Linked DNA regions of Homo sapiens: all the other regions are linked to region 2. The links come from fine-mapping of genetic effects on gene expression. A gene starts in region 2. Each other region holds a variant in brackets. All regions are shown on one strand. Distances are between the middles of the regions. Region 1 overlaps ARAP2 (ArfGAP with RhoGAP domain, ankyrin repeat and PH domain 2). Region 2 holds the start of ARAP2 (ArfGAP with RhoGAP domain, ankyrin repeat and PH domain 2). Region 3 overlaps ARAP2 (ArfGAP with RhoGAP domain, ankyrin repeat and PH domain 2).

The links. PIP is the estimated chance that this variant, and not a neighbour inherited with it, causes the effect.
Region 1: its variant is fine-mapped to the expression of ARAP2 in whole blood (INTERVAL, PIP 0.95).
Region 3: its variant is fine-mapped to the expression of ARAP2 in whole blood (INTERVAL, PIP 0.95).

Annotation. Positions count from the first base shown.
Region 1 is chr4:36,062,045-36,070,044 of GRCh38, forward strand. It overlaps ARAP2 (ArfGAP with RhoGAP domain, ankyrin repeat and PH domain 2), which reads right to left. Exons shown (of 33, transcript NM_015230.4): 33 at 3,960-6,234. The coding sequence ends at 5,863. It also overlaps the pseudogene LOC651644. Among named protein-coding and RNA genes, the nearest start is that of ARAP2, 180 kb to the right of the region's middle. The variant A/T (reference allele first, on the strand shown) is at 4,905.
Region 2 is chr4:36,240,801-36,249,156 of GRCh38, forward strand. ARAP2 (ArfGAP with RhoGAP domain, ankyrin repeat and PH domain 2) reads right to left here and starts at 3,714. Exons shown (of 33, transcript NM_015230.4): 1 at 3,379-3,714. LOC439933 (a long non-coding RNA gene) reads left to right here and starts at 3,316. Exons shown (of 5, transcript NR_122079.1): 1 at 3,316-3,411; 2 at 4,372-4,510; 3 at 7,682-7,806. RefSeq lists a silencer at 3,510-4,089.
Region 3 is chr4:36,074,451-36,082,450 of GRCh38, forward strand. ARAP2 (ArfGAP with RhoGAP domain, ankyrin repeat and PH domain 2) reads right to left here. Exons shown (of 33, transcript NM_015230.4): 30 at 7,801-7,836; 31 at 5,766-5,829. Among named protein-coding and RNA genes, the nearest start is that of ARAP2, 170 kb to the right of the region's middle. RefSeq lists an enhancer at 7,171-7,220. The variant G/A (reference allele first, on the strand shown) is at 4,587.

The sequences.
Region 1 (8,000 bases), 180 kb before region 2:
AATCCCTTGACAGTTGGATAGTTTGCAAATATTTTTTGCCATTCTGTGGATTGTCTCTTCACTTTGCTGGTTGTTCTCTTTGCTATGCAGAAGTTTTTAACCTGATGTGATCCCATTTGTCCATTTTTGCTTTGGTTGCCTGTGCTTATGGGGATATTACTCAAGAAATTTTTGCCCAGCCCGTTGTCCTAAAAAGTTTCCTCAATGCACCATGTTGCTGCTGCTAGGGGGTTGGGGAGGAATGGTGTTGATTCAAGACCGTATTTTCTACCCCTTCAGTGCCTCCTTCAGTGATAAGAAGTTAAAACCAGGTACTGTGAGTGCTCATCTGAGTTTTGGTTCATATGAAGTTTGTTTTCTGTGTAGATAGTTATTAGGTTGGTGTCCTTTAGTGAAGGACAGTTGGAAGAGCCTTCTATTACACCGTCTTGATCTGCCTGCTAGAAGCGGTTTTGAAAACCATTAGGGTCAACTAAGATCAAATGAGAGCTAGGAGGACTAATACATTAATAACTAACATTTATTGTATCTCTACTATGCTGCTATATATGTATCTATTTCATATACCTGGCTCGTAATTTGTGTGAGAGTGTGTGTGTGTGTGTGTGTGTGTGTGTGTATAAAACAGTTGTTGAAAAAAGTCAACAAGTTAACATTCCTACTTCTCAGATGAGGACATTTGGGCTCTGAACTTTAACTCATAAAAAGGGTTAAATCTGCAGAGGTATCTCAATTATCAAAACTTTTATATTCAACATATAGTGGCTGTGGCAGAAAAGGGGTAATACAATGTAATTTGTAATATTTTAAATAAAAAATGTTAAAATAATTATACAACTTAAAAACATAAACTTTAATTACCTGATTCATTTCTGTGCTTTGCATTTCCTGATCATTAGAAATTAAATGTGATGATTGTACACATGACAGAAAAATGGTCACATTTTACAACTAATTCTGCCTTAACTAATTGGTAACAGTGAAACAGTAGAAAAACTAACATAACTAACTCCATTTTTTGTTAAAGGGGTCTTTACCTATTCCTGCTCACAGGCTAATTTTAGAGCACTGAGAAAAAATTCAAAGAAAACAGTCATGTAGTTTTCTTAACTAACTCTGTGATTAAAGGAAAAGTATGTAAACAGCTATGTTTTGTTAAAGATTTGCAGAAGCAAACACCGCATGTTCTCACTCACAGGTGGGAATTGAACAATGAGAACACTTGAACACAGGGCTGGGAACATCACACACTGGGGCCTGTCAGGAGGTGGGGGGTTGGGGGAGGGATAGCATTAGGAGAAATACCTAATGTAAATGACAAGTTAATGGGTGCAGCAAACCAACATGACACACGTATACCTATGTAACAAACTTGCACGTTGTGCACATGTACCCTAGAACTTAAAATTTAAAAAAAGAAAAAAAAAAAAAAGAGATTTGCAGAAGCATTGTGACCTGACCATGGACGAAGCAGCTCCAGCTGCCTCAAACTCTGACTAGTATCCAAATTTCTGCGGTTGTGGCGCACATCTTGATCCCAACCCTTTCCTCTTCCTGCTACCCTAAACATAAAAACAGCTTGAAATTTGTACCGACTTAAAATGGTACTTTAGGTCACTAGTTGGCCATCTTCTTGGTTTGCTGGCTTTCCAAAATAAAGTTGCCTTCCTTGTTCCTTGTTCCACCTCCTTAACTTACTGGCTGTTGTGAGGCAAGCAAAATGAGTTTGGGGTTGGTTACAAGTTCATTTGAGTAAGGAAGAATATGTAAGTCTTCATGCAAATTTTGTTAAGATGGTGAAAGTTTTAATCTTCTTCCTAAAGTGATTATTAAAACTTTAAAAAGATGCAAATATCTGCATGCTACAACCTGTTCAAATACATTTAATGCATTTACAAAATTGCTTTTGCATTATATTTTTGAATTAAAAATTATGCAATTCAGCAGCTAATATAGTTACGTTCATAAGTCATATTTTTGCTTCAATTATTTTTGTTTGATTTTGAGTTCTCAGTGACACTTTGATGAATCATCAGGTAATGATTTCTTTAGAAATCAAATATTTAAAAACCATGTCTAATAATTAATTTTAGGGCTACAGAAATAAAATTGAGAGTGCCTTTGAGCACTTTGAGTGCTTTGCTTTTTTGTTTTTTTCTTTCTTTTTTTTTTTTTTTCCTGTGACTAAGCCTTCATTATGCAAGCCTGAGTCCCAACCTCAGGTCTGCACTGGTTGTGGAGGAATTCTCCTCCTTAGAGGTGGAAATAAGCCACCTCTGACCCTACCACCTCCTATTCCCAGCCACACCCAAAGTCTCAACACAGGTTCTGGGCTGGGGGAGGGGAGAACCAAGTGGCCTAGCCAGAGGCAGGGGCCAAGGTTGGATTTCAGAAAGTCCTCTTGATGGAAGTGGGCTCCTGTCCCTGCAGGTAGTGAATGGGGTGGCAGGACTTGCTGGCCCAGTTTGGGCACAGGGATACTACTTGGTTAAATGAATGGTGAGAGATTGAAGGGTGGCCCTGGTCCTGCAGCTCAGGTGGGCTGCTCTGGCTGTGGGTGTACTCTGAGGTGGAGGGTCCCACAGGAATATGTGCAACCTGGTTCCCTGTGGGGAGGGACAGGTCAGGATAGGAGCTCTGGTGACCCCAGACCCTGATTTGCTATCCCTGGAGTTCTGCAGGCTGAAGTCCATGGACCCAGGTAGATGCAGTCACAGGGCATGGGCCCAGGCCTTTCACAGGCTCCCCACCTCTTGGGTCACTGCCTCTGCACAGAAGGAAAGAGAGAAGCCACCATAAAGGAGAGAAAAGACATTGGGGAAGGCAGAGATAAGAGAATAGAAAGGGTGGAGATGATGAGAAAGGAGACAAGGGGAGGACAAGAAGCAGGTAAAGGGAGATGAGGAGTCCAAGAACAGACAATAGAAGTGGGAGGTGGCTGTGAGAAGGCAGTGAGCTGGAGAGGGAGAAGGCAGAGGTCCTCTGGGAGAAGGAAGGGAGGGAGAGAAGGGCCAGGCAAGAGAGCCTTCAGAGTTGAGGTCCCCAGACTTGGGCTAGGCCTAGCGAGACGTGAGCTCCAATGACTTCTTCAGCCTCTTCTTCAGTTCCAGTGGGAAGTTCTTACACACGGGCTTCATGTCAAACTCCACAAACTTGATCTTCAGAGTGAGCCTGCTCTTGCAGGTGGAGCGGGAGAAGCAGTTCACACACATCAGGCCTTGTTGAGGGCCAACACCATGTCACCCTTGACCTCATGGCTGCAGCTACAGCAGATGTCCCAAAGAGCTGGCTGTAGTGGATCTCAAAGTAGGCCAGGCCCTTCTTCTCATAGTGCCAGGGCCCCAGGAATGGCTTCTCACACTCAGGGAAAAGAGCTCTGCATGCCACCACTCTTTGCCCAGTGTATTCACTATGTGGCCTTTGATGGGCTGGCTGCAGTCCCTAGAAATGGGGACAGCATCTTGTCAATGCAGGGCAGGCAGTAGAGTTCACCCTTCAGCTCATGGGCCTCACCAGTCAGCTCCTTCCTACAGTGGATGCAGCTGAAGTGGCCTGGGTGACAGGCACTGTTCCTGAACATGAGGGACTGCTCATGAATGACCAAGTGGCACTGCTGAGGTGCCAGACACTTGTGCCAGTCCCTTGGCCTTCTCATGGTGTGGCAAGGCTGGCAGAGATGCCTATAAACCAGGGGTGGTACTATGCATCTTGTAGGGATGTGGCTGGTCAGCAGCTTCTCGTCAATACAGGCCACAGAGCCTGTAATTGTGCCTGGTTCTCAGCAAGTGGGTCTTTAAATAAATAAAGCTACTTACAGTGACCTGTTTGGAAAAACAATACAGCCAGTTTGAAGTATATATTAAATTCAAATTTTTTTAAAAAGAAAAGAAAGCTAATCTATTTGATCTATTTCACAATAACAACCTTCAACTTCTGAAAATAATAAAGTCACATTCAAGTAGACTTGTAAAACAATTTTAATGTTTACTCAAAATAAATGAGATGTCATCATTAGCCCTTATCTCTCACACTTGAAAAATGGAGACAGTTGTTCAGAATAGAAAGGGAAACAGCTATTAGAGTTTAAGCTCAAGTTTCAAGAAGAATTCAGATAAGGCAGGTAAAAACTCTAGATACTTTTCCACTGTCCAACATCACCAAATATTAATTTCCACATACCTCTTTATTTCATAAAAATATAAATATTTATTAGAAATAGTATGTTTAAGATTAGTTTTTCTTTCTAAATAACATGATTTCTTGCTTTAAAGGAAGATTCCCTAATAGTGCCACCTATTTCATAAACTGTCCTGCAGTTTTGTGCTTTTTAAAAATTCTAATTTACTTTGATTTAAAGAATAAATATCTCATACCCATGGTGAACTATTTTATCACCCCAAAATACAAATGATCCGTATTTTACAATGAAGAAATTCATAGCATCTACCACCACATCACTGTACTATGATTGGACTGACTGAAGTATGGGCCTGTGAATATAGATTGAAAAATAAAAAAGAAATGCTAAAAAAAAAAAACTTAGCTACATAATGTTTAATATCAAAACTCACCAGACAATCCAATTTTAAAGAAACTGATGGAAAAATGCTTCCCCTAACATGAACTATGGTTAGATAGCATTGTCTGTCAGGAAATTCACCAATTCAGTAGCTGATCTTTATGTGGAAACAAAAATAGGGCTTTGTCCTTATTCATAAGTACAGGGAAGAGACCACACCTTTACTTAAAAAAAGAAAAAAAAACCTAGATTAAATGTGACCAGGTAGCCCCCAAATGTATAGTAAACCACCAACTAGCCCCTGGCTCCATAATGGCCATATATTGTATTCTTCCAGTTATTTCTGACAACTCGGAGAAAAACATTACAACCTTAATAATAATTT[A/T]AAAAAATCTAAAAATCAAACAAAACAACAGGACCCTGTGGTGATGAATTTTGTTCGTACCAAAAGTATAGTCAGAAATTCTGAAAAAAGACAAAATGCTTGCATACAATGACAGTGCAATCAGCATCCAGGCCAGGTCCTGTGTACACAACCTCTCCAATGCAGTGTAAGTTTCCTCTTAGCAGCCACCAACAATGAGCTCAAACGTAGTGAATCTGTAATGTGGCTGGTTTTCTAACACTATAAATATTAATAAGAGTGGCTAGTGCTATTATTTACATCTGTTGGCCGAATATTACTCTTGAGAAATAAACACTGGACTTTTTCTTAACAAGTGGTTTCTCATTGACAAGTTCTGGTCATTAGTGAACTAGAATGAATCTTAGCTCACTTCCTTGTTTTGCAGGACATTTAACTCCTTGCTTCTTTTAAAAACTCCAGTGGTTTTTAGGCAGCCACTACAATAAATTCTCCCCCCTTTTTCAATTTACTTCCCTTTCTTTTCCCTAAGGTAGAACTTCTGTAAACCTAAAAACATATGGTAATTTAATATACAAGGTTTCTCAAAGTGCAAAATATGTTACAGATAGTTTCTTAGGCTTCATTTAAACACAGCATTTTATACAATACAGTACAGTTTGAGATTTCTGCTCATAAATTATACCACTTAACAGACAACTACTTTAAAAGGACTGACCACCTAAGTAACCCAATGTCTTCTTACACACGTTAATACAATGGAACTTTACAAGGTTTGTTCAGACCAAAATAAAGTTAATCTTACATTCAGTCACATATATACATATTTTTAAATGCTCCTTAAATGCCTAAGCATAGACAAATTTGCCTATCAATAGGCAAATTCTTATGAATTATCTTATAGTTCAGTTTTGGAGTTACACATAAAGATTGCATACAATATTAAAAAAATAATCTGGGGAGCAATTCATTTTATTTCCTACTTCAAAATCTGCTCATCCTGTAATTCTTTTGGAAGGGTTCTTGACCGTTGTAGAACCACATTAAGTTCTTCAATTACCCTTGATGGTAACTTATGATCAGAGTCCAAAGTAGCTTTGCTATTCCTGTCCTCAGTCTTCCTCAATGTCTTTAGGCCTTTATGGCCTTTTGGTTGCCCAAGTGGGGCTTCAGGCTCTGTGTCCTCCAGGCAGTTGAAACTCCGATGTTTTCGGGGTCGATTTCGAAGTTTATCGTCCTTGTGCTCCAGGCAGTGGGCCACCATGGAAGCTCTCTCCTTTAAGCTAGAGTCCACGGACTCTTTATCACACTTTTCACTGAGCCGCAGCCTTTCAAGTTCTGCTCTTGCACTCTAAAAATAAAATTAAATGTCTCACAGGGAAGCAAGATTTGGCACAATTTAGGTTTAGAAAGTGCAATCCACATAAAAGTTGATGCTTCCTATAAAAGATCTCATTTCTATGACTTAGGTCCTAACTTTACTTCGATACAAGTGGCATGTCTGAATTTATATACTAATCTTAGAGCTACAAAATCAACTACAGACAGTCCCTGGCTTACAATGCCTCAATACGATTTTTTGACTTTACAGTGGTGAAAAACAAATATGCATGAAGTAGAAAGCATACTTCAAATTCTGAATTTCGATCTTTTCCCCGGTTAGTGATGCGCGGTAGGACACTCTCTCGTGATGATGGGCAGTGGCAATGAGCTGCAGCTTCCAGTCAGCCATGCACTCATGAGGGTGAAAAACTGATATGGCGTGCTGTGTTGCCAGATGATTCTGCCCCGCTGTAGGCTAATATAAATGTTCTGAGCACGTTTAAGCTAGGCTAGGCTAAGCTACAACATTCCATAGGTTAGGTGTATTTAACGCCTTTTTTATTTTATGTATGTTCACCTTATGGTGAGTTTATTGGTATGTAACCCCATCATAAGTTGAGGAACATCTGTAAAATGCAATCCATGGAAATTCATTTTAACATGCATTCAACATACCACTTCGAAGGTGTCTTTTGGGTTAGTTATTCAAATTGAATCTCACTTCATACTTGCCTCTTCTAACTCACTCCTGCTTAGATATGTCTAGCAAGGTTTCTATTTTTTTTTTCCTTTTGTTTAATTAGTTCACTGAAGTGTGAGCCTTGTACACACATAGGAAATGATCAATAAATATTTTTGAATGAGTAAATGAAGAAAAGTTTAAACAGTTTCCAGTATACAACACTGTTCTATTTTTCTTAATCTCAGTAGATCCAAACATAAATTTATAACAGAAAATTCAAGTGGAATAAAAATATTTTCATGAATATAATGTACAAATAATTTTGAAATTTGGAATTTTCTGGTAAGATTCTGATTATACATCTTAAGCTATATACATTTTTCCTACTCTGAAATTTATAGGAAGAAATGTTTAATATCTAGCTTAATTCCAAAGTTTCATTAGAATATGTTAAAATACTAAGAAAAATAGTGATGGTTGAACAATGTAAATACAACCAATGCCACTGAATTGTATGTATTTTTAAATAAAGTAGAAAATTCCATGATATATGTATTTTATCGCAAATGAAGTAAAAAAAAAACAAGACAGGGTTTATAAACAAACTTTAATCTTGTTAAAAAGTTTCACTCGGCATCTATTACTTGGGAAAAATTAAGGATAAATATAGAGAGGTTTTATATATCAGAGTGACAGTTCTCATCGTCTTTCAACCATCAGCATAAAAACTTTGGGACTCTCTTAGACACAGAATTTAAGGGCCAAGTAATAACATACATAATGCTGAAATTTCAAGTACACTACTGATATGGTTTGCATCTATATCCCCACCCAAATCTCATGTTCAAATGCAGTCCAGTGTTGGAGATGAGGCCTGATAGGAGGTGACTGAATCGTGGGGGTGGGGTTTTCATGAGTGGTTTTAGTACCATCCCCTCTGTGCTGTTCTCCTGAGTGAGTTATGTTGAGATCTGGTCCTTTAAAAGTGTGTAGCACCTTTCCCCCCTCTCTCTCTTGCTTCTGCTCCAGCCATGTAAGATGTGCCTGCTTCCCCTTTGCGTTCTGCTATAATTGTAAGCTTCCTAAGGCTTCCCGAGAAGCCAAGCAGATGC
Region 2 (8,356 bases):
TTATAGCACAATCTGAAAAACACAATAAAAAAACCTAAAACTTAAAAACAATTTCCATCCAGTGAAGGCCACAAGTACAAATTCCTTTACTTAGTATAAGAACATATTAGTAGCATAGGAGGTACCTAGGTTTAGGTGTTCTGGATAATATCGCAATAGTTAAATGCTTGATAATCTCCTTAGCTTCTGTAAGTCTTTTCCTTTCAAGCTGTCCATCCAGATTTTAAGTTAATTCACTAAGATTTGAGAATTTTTAAAAATTCTAATGTAGAGAGATCCCTAAGGTAAAGCCATAATTCTTGGGATATCAGAGAATAATTTATTCTTCTAGAGTTTCTACAAAAGCAGAATTTTAAAACTTTTGTATAAGTGTATATACTCCACCATTTCTCTGAATGTAAGTCATATTTTTAGACAAACAACCAGATGTTTCAGAATAGCCTACTGTGTTTCCTCTCTTTGCATTTATAAATAGTACTCTGACCTCTTTTCCAACTGAGTTTGAGGGTTTATTCCTATTGGTTTAGCAATTGTCAAAGTTTCTTTTTCTTATAAAAAGAGGGCATTTCAGAAAACGTCTCCTACCTTACTGGACCATTTTTTAACATGTATTCATTCAATATATATTAAGCAACACTACTCGCTCCAAGATAAGAGAGGGAGATATTTGGTGTTCAAGATAACAGCCTCTACTGTCTCATTTGACAACAGTGCTAAGGGCTACAAAGAAAGTGAAGATACAGTCTTCCCTCCAAGAGTTTACAATCTAAAAGGGTAGATGAGACATGACTATAAGAAAAGGTAAATGGCACGTATATGAACAATCAGTTCATTATTACTCAGTAAGTGCCAATAAACAATACCAAAGACACCACAAAAAAACAACTTTTTGCAAAGAATTTGATATATTCCAAAAAAAACACTTAAATTGTAATGGTGAGAAAAATCCAATTTTATGACCCTAATTTCCACATGGTTTTATATTTTAGTATTGTTTTAAATACATGGAGAAGTGGCCCCATCATCCTTCATGAGTTCTCAGGAACTCTAAAAAATCTCAAATCTGCCACCTAAACCACTGCTTCAACCCAAATCAGGCCTCCTTTGTTTTCTCTGCAGCATGGGTAAATAAGTAAGCTTGTGCTGAACAGAAACTGAAACAAAATTTCACAGGACAACTTTCTAACTAGAAAAGATCACGTGAGGAGAATACCATTAAGTACTGCTTCATTTAAAGAAGAAACAAGTGAGCAAAATGGTTTAACTACCATTATATATTTAATCTGGCCAATACTTACAAGTAATAACTAAAATGATAAATTACAAGGTCCAGAACTTTGCAGAAAAGATTAAGACAGCGTCTCATAGCCTCTAATCTCACATCCACCATATGTGGTCAAAGCTAAGACATATTTCCCAGATTATTAAGAAGTTCTCTACCTAATTAATATTTCACCAAGAATTCCCAAAACTCTTACAATGTAGCATGTGCAAAGATTGTATCCAAGAAATGTATCAATAAATAAATGAGGACAGGTGGAAATGTATGCTAAAAGAAAACTATTAAAGCAATGACTATTATTTATACTTAGCATTTTTATAGTCACTTTCACCAAACTTTCTCACAGTTGCAGGGAGGTGGGTTAGAAAGTAACAAAACGAAACAACAACAACAACAAAAAACTTCTCATATATCATGAAGTCTATAACCCAGAATTCTACGTAGACTTTAAAACTTCATAGTTTCAATGCGTTAAAGTTCTTAAGAAAACTGTAATTCATTATAATCTGAGTTCTATACTTCTCCACAGTATCCAAGAATAGTTGGATCTGATATTATTGCATATCCATGAGCCTTACACTGCAAGGAGCTTGCAGTGATATTAGAAAAACAAGAATTTGTTTTTAAACGTACCATCAGCTTCTCCTTTTACAGACAAGCCACATAAAATCTGACAGGTTTACAGACGAAGGAAAAAATACAAACACAAGCACACACCCATATAAATACGTTTTAACAAGCTCTCTCACTTACCCTCTAGGTACATTTTAATTCAAATAAATCTTTGAGTACTGACAAATCTATATAAAACCCTCTTCGTGTTAGGAACCACCTTAAATGTGTATGTGTTAAATATGTTTAGAAAGAAGCCAGGAAGATATTTGCACTTAACCCTAGCCTAGTTCCATGACCCACTTTTTTTTCTTCTTTAAACGTTGTTGGACAAAAAATGTCATGAGTATTTTCTCTCAATATTTCTCCTGTAAGTGTATGGAAGTCATAAATAAGAGTTAAAAAAAAAAGAGTTTAAAGGTATTTCTCTTTTTTTCCTTAAAAAAAGTTAGCTTGCTTTTTATCTTCCAATTACTTACGGGCAAAGTTCCATGGGCCTGTGGGGGTGTAGAGTGCTTAAGTGCAGATAAATCAATACTGAGCTTGTAAGTACAATACTATTATGAGTAATAACAATGACATCCTATTAAATGTACTTTTAAAAATAGCTTATTTTCAATACACTTCTTGATTTTTTTTAAACCGAAGGCTGTATTCTACTGAACAGCCTACTTCAAGGACAAGCTTGCAAAAAAAAAAAAAAAAAAAAAAAGAATTTGCTATCAGGATACCTACTTACAACACCCTAAGATGTCATTATTCCACACAAATTAGCTTATTTTCTTGTGTTTTCCTCTAATTATCAAAGGCTATATAATCCACGAACCCTTTCCCCAAATCAAAATAACTCCAGATCACCTCAAGGTAGGAGGTGTTTAAGAAAACAAGCCAGAATTAGATAAAGTAAAACTTACTTTATTAAATAGGATGGACACCACTTCTCCCAAGAGAACTGTCTCCAAAAGTAAACAAGAAAGATCAATCTGGTAAACTCACATCATACAGGTTCCCGTGTAAGGTATCGGGTTCAGGCAGGTGGAAGCCAAATGATCGTAATTAAAGTTAATTAACAGGCCAGTCGTCTTAACGTGGTTAACAAGCAGGGTGCGGGGCAGCACAGACACCCGGGCAAATTCATGATCTCTACCGAGTAAATAACTTGGTGCCTGAAACTCACTACAGCTTCTTCTTATTTAAAGGTAGGGGAGAGGAATGGAGGGAGTGTCCAGCTGTCTATCCGGATCCTCACCCTCCCGGGTCAAATCCCAGAAGTGGAGTTCTTGGATCACTTACCGGCTTCTGGTTTCCTTTCAGACGCCCACACGCGGGAGCGAAATCCAAGGGGCGGACACCAGAGCCGAGCACTTTGCGCTGAGGAAATTTACCCGGTGAAGTGTCGAAAAGCCCCAGCCCCTCCAGACAGGGTCCTCCCACCCCCGCGTGGGCCATCCCGGCCCAGCCTTCCCGAGGCCCCGGGTACTCGCCTTGCGCTCGGGTCGCGGAGTTCGAAAAGCGAGGTGAGGCGGCGCTGGGAAGCTCAGCGCCGGCGTCTCTCCCAGCCTTGGGCGCTCGGTCCTCGCCCCTCTGCCGGAGGCGCCAGGCCTCCTCTTTCCCGGTCCCCGCCGGCTGTCCGCAGTCGCCTCTGCTGCCTGGCGGCGGCCGCGCGGGCGGCGCTGTTAGTGGGGCCGGCGTGTCGCGGCCGCCGCACCTGGAGGCGGGGAGCGCGGGCCGCGGACCCGCGCTCAGCTCCGGAAACGCCGAGCCCGGCGCCCGCGCCTTGCTCAGGTGCTCCCGCGCCTCGCCTCGGCCGCCGCTTCCTCTCCGCCCGCGGGGGCGGGGAGCAGGCGCCCCGCGCGGGGGAAGCCGGAGCTCAACGGCGGGGGCGGCCCAGCCGGCCTCCCTGGTTCCGCAGCATAGTTGGGTGACTGACTCAGACCGCCGCGACTTGGCCGCGCCTGGCACCCTCGCCACCTGGCGCACCTCGGCCCGGAGGCGTCAGACCCCGCTGGGGAAGCTGCGGGGGCGCGCCCTGGAGCCCAGAGCGACAGGGGCATTACCCACCTTCCCGGGACGGAGATGCCCAGGACCTTGTGTTGGCTCCTCCTGGCCAGTGGGTTTGTCTGTGCGCACTCATGGGGGGTTGAATGTCAAATGGGCGGAACCTCGCCACGACTGATTATTAGTATTACTCTTCCAAGTACTTAAAGTGTTAGCTCAGCGTTTCCCAAACTGAAGACTCATCTAGGGCACTATTTTCCCCAGGCTGCTTCTATGTAAATTTGCTCCTTCTTGCACCTGTGGCGGTTAGATCCCAGAGGGGCATTTCCCCTTTGAGTTGGACTCTGACAAAGGAGGCAGCGAAGGAAAATAGGGGATCCCAAAGAACCCTTGTGGACCTCCAAATATCTAAGCGTCCGTAAAATCCAGTTATTTGCAAGTGAGTTCACAGACCAACTACTTTTTTTTTTTTTTTTTAGACAGGGTCTCACTTTGTCACCCAGGCTGGAGTGTAGTGAGGCAATCTCAGCTCATTGCGCCTCCGCCTCTGGGTCCAAGCTATCCTCCCACGTCAGCCTCCCAGGTAGCTGGGATTACAGGCGCGCACCATCAGCCAAGGTAATTTTTTTTGTATTTTTGGTATAGACGGAGTTTCGCCTTGTTGCCCAGGCTGGTCTCAAACTCCTGACCTCAAGTGATCCACCTGCCTCGGCCTCCCAAAGTGCTGGGATTACAGGCGTGAGACACTGCCCCCTACCAGCTTTTTTTTTTTTTTTTATAAACATCTCCCACAGACTACCTGAAATTCTCTTCATTAAAAGGTGAAATGTATTTATCTTTCCCCTGTTCCTGTTGATGGAAGTGAAGCAATTAAGGAAAGCGCAGACCTTATGAAAATGAGATAATTGGTGAAGTGCGGAAAGAGAGAGGCTTCCCACAAGCCTGGGCCCTTAGGATTCTTCAGTCATCACCTTCACCCACACTAACTACCTGCCCAAAGCACCGTCTTTCCCTGGGGAGACTCTGAAGCAGCTCTGTCTTACTAGAGACACCAAATATCCAGTTCCTTTTGAACTTAATACCTCATAGCCGACCTCATTTCCACCAGGAAAGTTTTATTGACATTTTCCAAACCACGGGAACTTTTTCTCTGGATTCCTATAGCATTTATAGGAGGAATTTTATTTATGTGGCTCTTTTCTGGCTTCATTCTCTGTGTGTGTGTGTTTCTTTTGTTCTTTTTCCCTTTTCCCTCTCCAAATTCTCACATACTTCTCTCTTTTTTTTTATCTCTCTCTTTTTTGTTTTTGTTTTTGTTTTCGACTGAGCCCCGCTGTATCGCCCAGGCTGGAGCGTGGAGAGCAGTGGCGCGATCTCAGCTCACTGCAGCCTCCGCCTCCTGGGTTCAAGCCATTCTCCCGCCTCAGCCTCCTGAGTAGCTGGGATTACAGGCATGCACCACCACGCCTAGCTAATTTTCGTGTTTTTAGTAGAGGCAGGGTTTCACCATGTTGGCCAGGGTGGTCTGAAACTCATGGCCTCAAGTGATTCGCCTGCGTTGGCCTCCAGAAGTGCTGAGATTACAGGCGTGAGCCACCATGCCTGGCTCTATTTTTATCATTGTAAGCCATCTTCGGTCCTTCTCTAAACAAGGTGGGTTATAAATAAAAATTATTAGATCAGTTATCTTATGTGTGGGAGGTTCAATCATTGCTTTGTCCTCAAGTTACTTCGCTTGGTAGATTTTATAAACTAATTGAGAAATTGTCTCTCTCCCTCTTCGCAAAAATATCTTAGTTCTTTGATTATTATTCAGTCATTTATTCTTTAAAAATTATTAATCACTGTTTGGCATTTTGAAAATACAGTGTTTAGCAAATACAATGCAATCTCTGGATTTATGTTTTCTGAGGGGAAATAAAGGTAAATGCTACAAGGTACAACAATGACTTCATAATAGCCCTGGGAAATAAAGAAGAACAATGCTCACTTATTGAATGTATACATTAGTTATAAGATGTATTCTGGTTTAATGAATCTTAATATATGGAGGAAAATAAAAATGTCTGAGGAAATACGGCAAAAGCTATCTTTTATTAATTGATCGATAGTCACCAGACTCTAGTCAAATACCTAACATATATGCTGTGTATACACAACGTGTGTGAGTTAAAATTCTTTTTTCAATTTTATAAATATAGGTTTAATTGAAACTTAAAGAGGTTAAGTAGTAAATAGTGAATACATTGAATACATTTAGGCTATATTCTTAGGGTATAAATTTTTTATTTTGCAACCTTCACAGTGAGGTATTCAGAGAGCAAAGTACACAGGGAAATTGGCTTTACAAGGATTAAGGTATGGGCCAGGCACAGTGGCTCAGGCCTGTAATCTCAGCACTTTGGGAGGCAGAGGCGGGCAGATAACCTGAGGTCTGGAGTTCGAGACCAGCCTGGCCAACATGGCGAAACCCCATCTCTACTAAAAATACAAAAAAATTAGCTGGACATGGTGGTGCATGCCTGTAATCCCAGCTACTCAGGAGGCTGAGGCAGGAGAATCGCTTGAACCTGGGAGGTGGAGGTTGCAGTGAGCCGAGATTGCACCATTGCACTCCAGACTCCAGCCTGGACAATGAGACTGAAACTCCATCCCCTCCCCTCCAAAAAAAAAAAAAAAAAAGGTAAGAAAATATGTTTAATCTCAAGACCATTGGAACATATATTCCCAGTAATTTTCATCTAGGCTGAAATGATTCCACAATGACGAGCTCCTGCACATTTTTCCCAGATTTTTAGTAAAAAAGCAGGTAAAGATGTGTCTGTGCCTATCTATGTATTTACTATTGTGATCTCTTGTTGCTTTACTTGTCGAGGAGACAATTTGAGAGAGTGAAAATCTTCCTCCTCTCCTCCTCCTCCTCACTCTCTCCTCTCTCCCTCCTTTTCCTCCTTCTACTTTTTCTTACAACATGATGGCTAATACCCATTGAGCACTGTGTGCCAATTGCTGTTCCAGGCATTTTAATTACAAGAGCTCATTTAAGTATCTCAGCAGTTCCTTGGAGAGATGTTATCTCCTTTATAAGAAAACTTAAGAGACAGAAAAATTGAATGCTTTACACAAATCAAACAATTAGGACTGTACGGGAGGGAGAATTCCAACCCAGTCTTCTCCAGGATCTATTCTGCACTGTATTGTGTCTTGAAGAAAGTAGAAGGCTTGGAAAAGGCTGCATTCAAGATGGAACCAGTATAGGTTGCGGCATTTTTTTAAGCAAATTCATTAACTTACCTGAGCCTCAGTTTCCCCATATGTAAACTGAGAATAATAATACCTATGAGAATTTAATATGATTATATATCTACAGCACCTAAAAAAATAGTAACCCCTCAATGCATTTACTTTTAGTTTATCTTCTCAAATTATTCTTCAAGATTTGATTCAAATCCTACCTCCTTCTCAAGACTTTCAAAATCTCTGATACTCGGAAATATGTACACAACAGGATTTAAAATAATCTTTCCTTTTTTTTTTTCTAAAAGAAAATCCAGTATTGCTTTTGCCAAATATGAAAATTAGGTATATAGATAAAATAAGCAAATGTCTACTTATTTAATTCATCAATTTAGATGAATATCTATAGAAGTAAAATTATATTTTAAACTATACTGTTATTTCCACTTATATTTTATGAAATATTTAATTCACATTTTCAAATTTTAACATTCAACGACTTCATCACTATGGGCTGATTTTTTTCTTTTTTCCTTTTTTTTTTTTTTTGAGACATAGTCTCATCACTCTGTCACCCAGGCTGGAATGTAGTAGTGCAATCTCGGCTCTCTGCAACCTTCACCTCCTGGATTCAAGTGATTCTCCTGCCTCAGCCTCCTGAGTAGCTGGGATTACAGGTATGCACTGCCATGCCTGGCTAATTTTGTATTTTTAGTAGAGACGGGGTTTCTCCATGTTGACCAAGCTGGTCTCAAACCCCTGGCCTCAAGTGATTCGCCCACCTGGACCTCCCAAAGTGCTGGATTACAGGCATGAGCCACCGAACCTGGCCACTACAGGCATATTTCTGATATATATTTTTTGTTGCTTTTCTGTATACCATCTCAGCCCTATCCTTCAGCCCTGCTCCCAGGGATCCACTCCCCAGTAAAGAGTTCACATATAGGTTTTTGCCTCAGGCTGTATTTTCTGGGGGAGCTTTGGCTAAGACGTTTTTCATCACATCCTCTTATATTTATTTGTTCAGTAGCTTATTCTCTGCTTTAGATACAAGCTTTCTTTTTGGCCTGGAAAAAGGTAAATTCTTTTTTAAAGTTTTAATTGACAAAAATGTATATATTTATAATGGACAACATGTTTTGAATATGTTTACATTGTAGAATGGCTAAAACTAGATAGTTAACATATGCTCTACCTTGCATTCTTTTTTTTTTTTTTGTGGTAAGA
Region 3 (8,000 bases), 170 kb before region 2:
TGGAGAAAGGTTAATTTGGATGGGGATAAATGTTCACAGGTAAAAATATAAGCTCTGGAGTGATTCATCTCTGATATATACATATAAAAAATTCTTTAAAGAATTTTGTACTCCCCAGGGTAGATTAACTTTCCAGAATTTGGAAAAAGTATATTGATTTTCAAACAACAATCTATGACGTAAACACAGAATACCGAGTATAAAATGAAAAGTTTACAGATATTGTAATGAAATGAAAACCATTTAGTAAACTATATAGCTAAATGCCTACTCTTTATTTCTCTCAGTTCTTAAGCAACAGATTATTGTTCTTAGGTTGCAGCTCTTATTTTAATGTGTTGCTTTATGGCAAAGAACTCATTTAAACAAATATTTACTGTCTACCTACCATATAATAACAGCTAATTTAACTAAGGGGCAAACTGCCAAGCTGTATGTTTATCAATGTACATATAATTTTCATTTATTCCTCAATGATCTTACAGTGCAGATCCTTTAATGTGCATCGTATCTACCCTTGAATGTTAGTGAAGCATTTACCTTAGTTCCGCAAATCTATAATGGTAGGTTATACAGTATTTCAATTGGAAAGTTATAGCTTCACATTATTTTTATGACACAGTACCAAACATGGTTAAAAAAAGCATATTATATAATTGTGATGTTCCCAAAACATAAACCTGGGAGAAAACTGACTGAGAGGGAATTAGGCAATTTTGTGAATTACCCTTACACTTTCAAATCACTGATGTGTAGTGCATACGCTAAAATATATTTTGAAGAATCTAAGAGCAAATGCGGTTCCCAAATCCATATTTCTCTTTTTCTGAAATAATATACAACTGTGAATACCAGCTAACTCTCCTTGAATTGAACTAAGAGGCATTTTTTTCTACTTTACATCCAAGTGATGTGTTCTGATTTAACATTTGTAGTTATTTGTAAATGACTTCAAAAGTCATACAGCACGGATCATATAGGTGAGGATCAAACTTTCATTTTATAACCAAAGACCACACCTAAACATCTCCATTTCTGCCTTCCATTTTCTAACCTTTGCCTATCTTTCCAGCTAACTAAATTTAGTTTCATTCATTTTAACTATTCTTTTCACTCCTTGAGACCTCCAATCCACCACCACTCTTCTCACAACATTTTTTACCACTTCCCTCATTGCCTGGCTTTCATTTCATGGTCAATCAGTAAACTCACTTCCTTGTAAATATCTTCAAGTTCAAATTTTATCTGATTACTTATTTATTTTCTTGCTCCTTCGTTCTCTATCATACTTGCCTGGCAAAGCCCCAAACCTAATTAAACACAATTCAGCTTATTTCATGAGTGCCTGCCAGTTGATGGAGGACAAAAACAAATTACTCTGTACATCCATCACACTTTAAATTTAACCTTAAATTTTAAGAAACCATTCAGCACTGCCTTGAAGTTCTACCATGGGACAACTGGTTTCCTCACTCTCTGAAGATTACTTCTCTCCTTTGCCTCTGCCCTTACACTTCAAAAACCCTGCCTGCGTCACATGTGGTGATCTCACTGATTCAATCCAACAATTATTACTGATCATTTAAGAAAATACTCCCATCATGAAATGTACCAATCTCCTTGCATCTATAGTCATCTAAGTGAGTTTACTTCTTGCAATCAGTATTTGCTGATTGCAAATAACTTTTATCCAGTCATATCTATAATTGCTCAGCTCAATGGGTCATAAATTTAGGTGGTCAATAATTTGAGAAGAAATGTGCCACAGTCTCTGCTGTATGATGATTTTTAATAATGAATAACCATGCACTAGATCATATCATTTCATGTCTGTTCAGGGCCTCTGCTGGTTTAATAACATCTCTCCTCTTCTGTCCATTTCTTCTTCCTGATTGGATTGTCTTCATATAATGTATGCAAGTACACACTCCCCCATCTTAAAGATAAATCAAAACCCCCAAACCTACCTTCACCTCTATCTAGTCACAACCTCATTTAATTACATAAGAAATTACTTGAGAGAATTTTCTGTACCCATCACCTGGTTTTCCTCCTTTCTTACTTCTTATCACTGCTTTTGCTGTTTTTTTTTCTTCTGCCTACGCTTTAAATTTTGAAATGTCCCAGGGCTTATTCCTCCATTCTCTCTCTCTCCCCAACCCTCCTCCATGCTTCCCTCTCCACCTCCATGCTTCCCTCTCCACCTCAAACCTTCTCCCCCAGGCATCTCATCTAATCCTATAGCTTTGAATATAATCTAAGTGCTGACTTCCCCCAAATTTACATTTTAGCCCCAAACCTGTGCCTGAGTTTTTGATCCACACATCCAACCTGCTGCCCAGCATACATATCTGTGTATCTAATAGGCATCTCAAATTTTATGTGGCCAAAATAGAACTCTCCATTTCCTTCTACATCTCTGATGATCCCACTTACATCTGACAGTTGCCAAAAAACTAGAATTTTTTCTGATTTCTACTCTTCCTCTCAAATTGCAATAGCCAATTGACACAGGAGTTAAGAAGGAATTACTAAGCAGATAGCAAGGGCATGGGAGTCCTTGGTAAGGCTTTTCTTTTTAATGAAAAGCAGTCCCAAGCCATCTTCTAACAAAAAGCAGCCTGCAATCTAGGAGCTTGCAGGGGTGAATGCTGGCAGGAACTAAGGACTAGACATTTTCAAAATGGTGGCTCCATCTTCCCTTCTCTGCCAGCCAAATGCATTGTAAGGAGAGGACAAGATGGTGTCAATCAACTGGAAAGCCCATTTGCATAAGAAGATTAGGGTGGGGGTGACCAGACTTACCCATACACTATGTAAACGCCATATCTGATCGAAACAATCTGTGAGCCCTTCGTAAATCAGACACAACCTCCTCAAACTGGACTATAAAACTGCGCATTCTGCACTAGCTGGTACTTTCTGCTTGGAGACCTCTTCCTGTTATAGAGGAAGCTGTTTCTCTTTCTCTTCTCTTCTACCTATTAAACCTCCTGCTCCTAAACTTCTCGTGTGTGTCTGTGTCCTAAATTTTCCTGGCATGTGACAAGGAACTCTAGGGTATATACCACAGACAACGTAGTCACTTCGCAATAATTCCAAAAGCCTTATTGGCTCTACCTTCAAAATATTCCTGAATCTTAATTTGTCTTACCATATTCATTACCACCCTAGTCTGAGTTGACATCTTCTTTCCTATAGCTGTTCATCCCACTTGCATCTTTGACCCTCTACACTGCAGACTCAATGAAGTGAACAAAATAATTTTTTTCAATTAAAATTAGATTATATCCTTCCCTTGTTTCAAACTATTAAGCAGGAACTACATAATTTGTCACAAGCCTTCCTCATCTCTAATATCTTACCTTCATGATGTTTATAGAATAAAACAAGACAGTGATGATGTCTCAGGACATACCCTGCTGGCCCCATTCCTGAATGATCCTTCCTGGAAGCCTGCATGATACCCCTCTCATTTCAGACTGGTCTCAGGTCACCTGTCACCTACTCAGAAAGCCATTTCCTGAGAACCTTCCTCAATTAGTGCCTTCCTTATGTCAGTCACATGCTCTCCTTACCTGCCATATTTTATGATTCTCCTATTTTATCACATGGATATCCATTTGAAATTTTATCTGATTACTGATTTTCTTACCCTATTTCCTATTTTAGAAATACTAACTAAACATGTACTTGACATACAAGTCAAATATGATGAAGAGTCCTTCTTTTCATGGAGTTTACATTTTAGTAAGAGAGGCAGACATGAAATAGCTAATTACATTTTTTTCTTTACTAATTAGTGTCACAGTGGAGAAGTACGGGATGCTAAGGGTGATAGCCTGAAGGTCTAAGTCATCTGAAGGTCAGGAAAAGTTTCTCTGAGAATGGGATATTTAAGCTGAAGTCTAGATGACTTCTGAGGCAGGGGTGTGGAAAGGATGGAGATTACAAAAGTACTCTGAATACCAAAAGGAGCTCATTATAGGGGGTGTTTACTGTTAATTCGCATACGTGTTTGTGTGTATGTCTACGCTTTTAACATATATATAAATATTTGCTATTTTGCTGTTTCCCTACAGAGATGAACCATAAATCCTTAAATCCAAGAAGGCTTCTGTGTTTATCTTAAGGGAGGACCTGAATAATACCAAGAAGTAAAAAGAACAGAGGAAAGATAATTAGGCTAAATCTTTGAGACGAGGACTAGGATTAAAACATGAGACAGTAAGAAATAACCTTGTAGTGAGAGTAGGCTTTGCTTCCTGCATTCATTGTTTAAATTTCAACTGCAGAGTCTACTGACTCCAATTATAAAAACAAAAACATCAGTTTAGTTGTGCCACAAATGACACTGTAACAGCTTTAGACTCTATAGTCCCAACTTTACCAAAAGACTTCAAATCCAGTCTTTTGTTTTTCCTAAAGTAGAACTCGATGTGGCCTAGCACAGTGGCTCATGCCTGTAATCCTAGCACTTTGGGAGGCCAAGGTGGGCGGATCACCTGACGTCAGAAGTTCGAGACCAACCTGCCCAACATGGTGAAACTCCATCTCTACTAAAAATACAAAAATTAGCTGGGCAC[G/A]GTGGTGCACGCCTGTAATCCCAGATACTCAGGAGGCTGAGACAGGAGAATCACTTGAACCCAGGAGGCAGAGATTGCAGTGGGCTGAGATCATGCCACTGCACTCCAGCCTGGGCAACAGAGCAAGACTCTGTCTCAAAAAAAAAAAAAAAAAAAAAAAGTTGAATATCTGAATTTTAATAAGTTACAAAAAGAAGAAGAAAAGCCTCTAAAAAGTTAGCAGCCAGTCTCTTGTGCACATGTTTTTCCAGGTAGTAATGGTAGAGAGACAGGCTGAGAAGAGCTGTGTTTATTAACCACTGAAAAAGTTAATACATTAAATGAACAGAGAAAACTATTTTCAGAACAAATAAGAACTAGATTTTGGAGTGAGCTAACTTATTTCTTATAAGGGAAACAGGAAAATACCTCCTCAGTAATAAAGAATGGCAACTTAATCGTTACCAGTGAATTTCAATGCTCCATGAGAAGCATTATTGGGAATTTAGCTAGACAAGGTTGGGAAACAAACCAGTCCAATTAATGGGACTATATAACTGTTCCTCAAAAGGGTAAGTCCTGCTCTAGGGAGGAAAACAAATACGGAACTGAGTATAAGCATTGGCCTCAGACATCCCTGGGTTTAAACTACTAATATATGGTCCTGAGCAAACAACCAAACATTTGTTTTATAAAACCAAAAACATCTTGTATGGTTTGCTGCAAGGAATACATGAGTTATTCTTATGAAGTATCTAGCACACAATAGTTATTAAAGAAAAGTAGGTTCCTGTCCTTGTTTCTGGAAAGGCAGGGGTGGAGAGAGTGGGAGAACAAGAAGGGAAATAGAACACTTTTCTAAATGAAGGTCTATGTGGGATTGTGGTAGGATGACAGCTTAGAAAAGTCCCTCTTTCTTACACGACCATTTTAAAGCAACACACCTCACCTAAGCCAAGGAGGCTGTGGGGCTGGCAGAAAAGACGCTTTAATGGAATAAACTCTCTTTCAAAAGGTAATGAATAAATTTGAACTTTAATATACTATTTTAAAAACTAAGAATGAGAGAATCAAAGTTTATGCCAATTGTACATACATTTAAAATGCTTATTAAAAATTCTTTAGAAATCACCATCACACTAACATTTCCTGTAAACAAAGTTATTATACTCTACTGGATAGTTCAAACAAATCTCGTACCTGGGCAATAAAGATACTGGTCATCCACTCCGTCTGAGTTCGTGAACTATCACAACACAGGTGCCTGCAAAACGAGGTTTATAAACTATGTCATTCAAAAAGACAATTGACTGTTCTCTAGTGTATCTGCTGAGTGATTTGGTGATCAAAAATCTCTGGGTCTCTCCTGATTAATGACGTAATGCAATCACAAAAGTGGAACATTTCAGTACAAGTTGTTTTGGTCTTCTGCTAAATGTACAATACGAAGTTATAGTGTAAATATATTGGTTTAAACAAAATACAACTGAAGCCTTTGGTAAGTGCTGCAAAATGATGACCAATATTTTTCGGAAAGGCAGAAAGATTTATTTCATTTTGCCTTTTCAAGTACCTGATGGTAAAACACTGTATTCCACTAAAATTCTGAGCCTGAGAAGAAAAATATGTGCACATCCTCATAAGAGCAGATCTTTCTTTTTAAAAGGCTGAGACATAGTCTCCATCATTGTAATTGTAAACACTAATACCCACAGATTCATAAAAAATGAAACTACATGAAAAACCACTGCATATCCAATAACAGTGATTAAGTAACCTTTTATTGAAAGACTAACTAAAACAGAGACCTTGTCCTGAAGGCTCCTGTAGTCTATTAGGGGAGCTAAGCATATAGACAAATAAATTACAACACAGTGAGAAAAAGCAAAAATAAAACTGAGTGCAAACATAGAAACCACAGACTTGGGGATGAGGAGAGGGTTGTTCTTTATAAGAGGAAAATTTTATAATTGATATTGGAAAGATCTAATGGGCTTTTCAAAGTAATTGTATTCTTTACATTCCTGTATTATCAAAATAATTTACCTGAAAAATGTTGAAAATGAAATTTCTAAAAAATCTGTGTTTTCTTCATCAGCACCTCATGAAAACATTGTCTTTCCCTATTACCATGTCCAGGCCACAAACCATTCCTGCCACAAATCATTTTAATTCCGTACCCTTGTTTATAAAATACTGTAGGTGCAAAGAAGAAATAATGATCAGAGGTGAGAGCTATTAGATAAGGCTTTGGGGCATTTGAGCTATGATTTCAAAGAACATTGACAGTTGAGTTGGTTGAGTCATCAGGGGGAGAATGAAAGTATGACAGGAAGGAGAAGTGAAAAGTATGAACAAAGGTTTAGTAGAGGGACCATGTACATCACACATGCAGATCTGAAACAGCAAGGAATGCGTGGTGAATAAAGATAGATGATTGTTTTGTCATTAAGTGAAAAAGAAAAACTGTGGGAGATGAAGTTGGTGGAGTCATATATAGCCTTGCATGCCACGCAACAATTCTGTGCTTGATCCTATAGGTGAAAGAATTCACAGAAGTTTTAAAGCAGGAGAGAAACATGGTACAGCATAGAAAATACTCCTCAGTGGAGAGGTGGAGAATGTACGACAAAACAAAAGCAAAGAAGAGGCCTGAAGAGCACTTAGGACTCCTGGAATAATCCAGGCAGATCAATGAAGGCCAGGCCCTCAGGGTAGAGAGGTGTAGGTGGAGGAGGGGCACAAGGAAGAGGCAGATCTCGTGTGGCTCAGTGACCGATTAGACACAGGGAGGTGAAGAGAAGGAAACATCTAGTACAATCTCTAGAAATACTGATGGATACTGGTAACAGTATATGGCAAAAAGTACATATATAGAAATAGGGTTGAGAGCGGGATATATGTTTTTCTTAAATCTGATTTTAGCTAGTTCTTATTCTGTTTTAAAACTATCACCTACTTATCTCATAAAAGCTGAATTCCACACTCATAATAACTATGGAAGAAATCAGGCGTAGTTTCACTTCAGAGGCATTGCCAAATAGGATACATGGGACTTGAACCCTGATACAAATCTGTTTTCCTCTTCTTAGGCTCAAAGTCTTTACAAACAACCCTAATTTCACTTAGGCAAAACACTTTCCGTCTGTAGTTCTATCTGCAATTACTGAAATTATTCTTTTCCTGAAATTGTCACCAATATATTATGTCCAAAAGTTGTCAGCTGTTAACTTACCAGTGATGTTTCTCAGAATATGCGGTCAATCCCCAGCTGCATCACATAGAAAAAAAAACACACATAAATTAAAAATAATACATTTTACAAGACAGAAAACAGGATTAGATGTTAAGGAGATGAGATTTAATGGTGGGAATGCATAGACTTCCACAAGTGGTGATTCAATGTGTTGGACTTAGCTAGAGGTGAATGCTAAA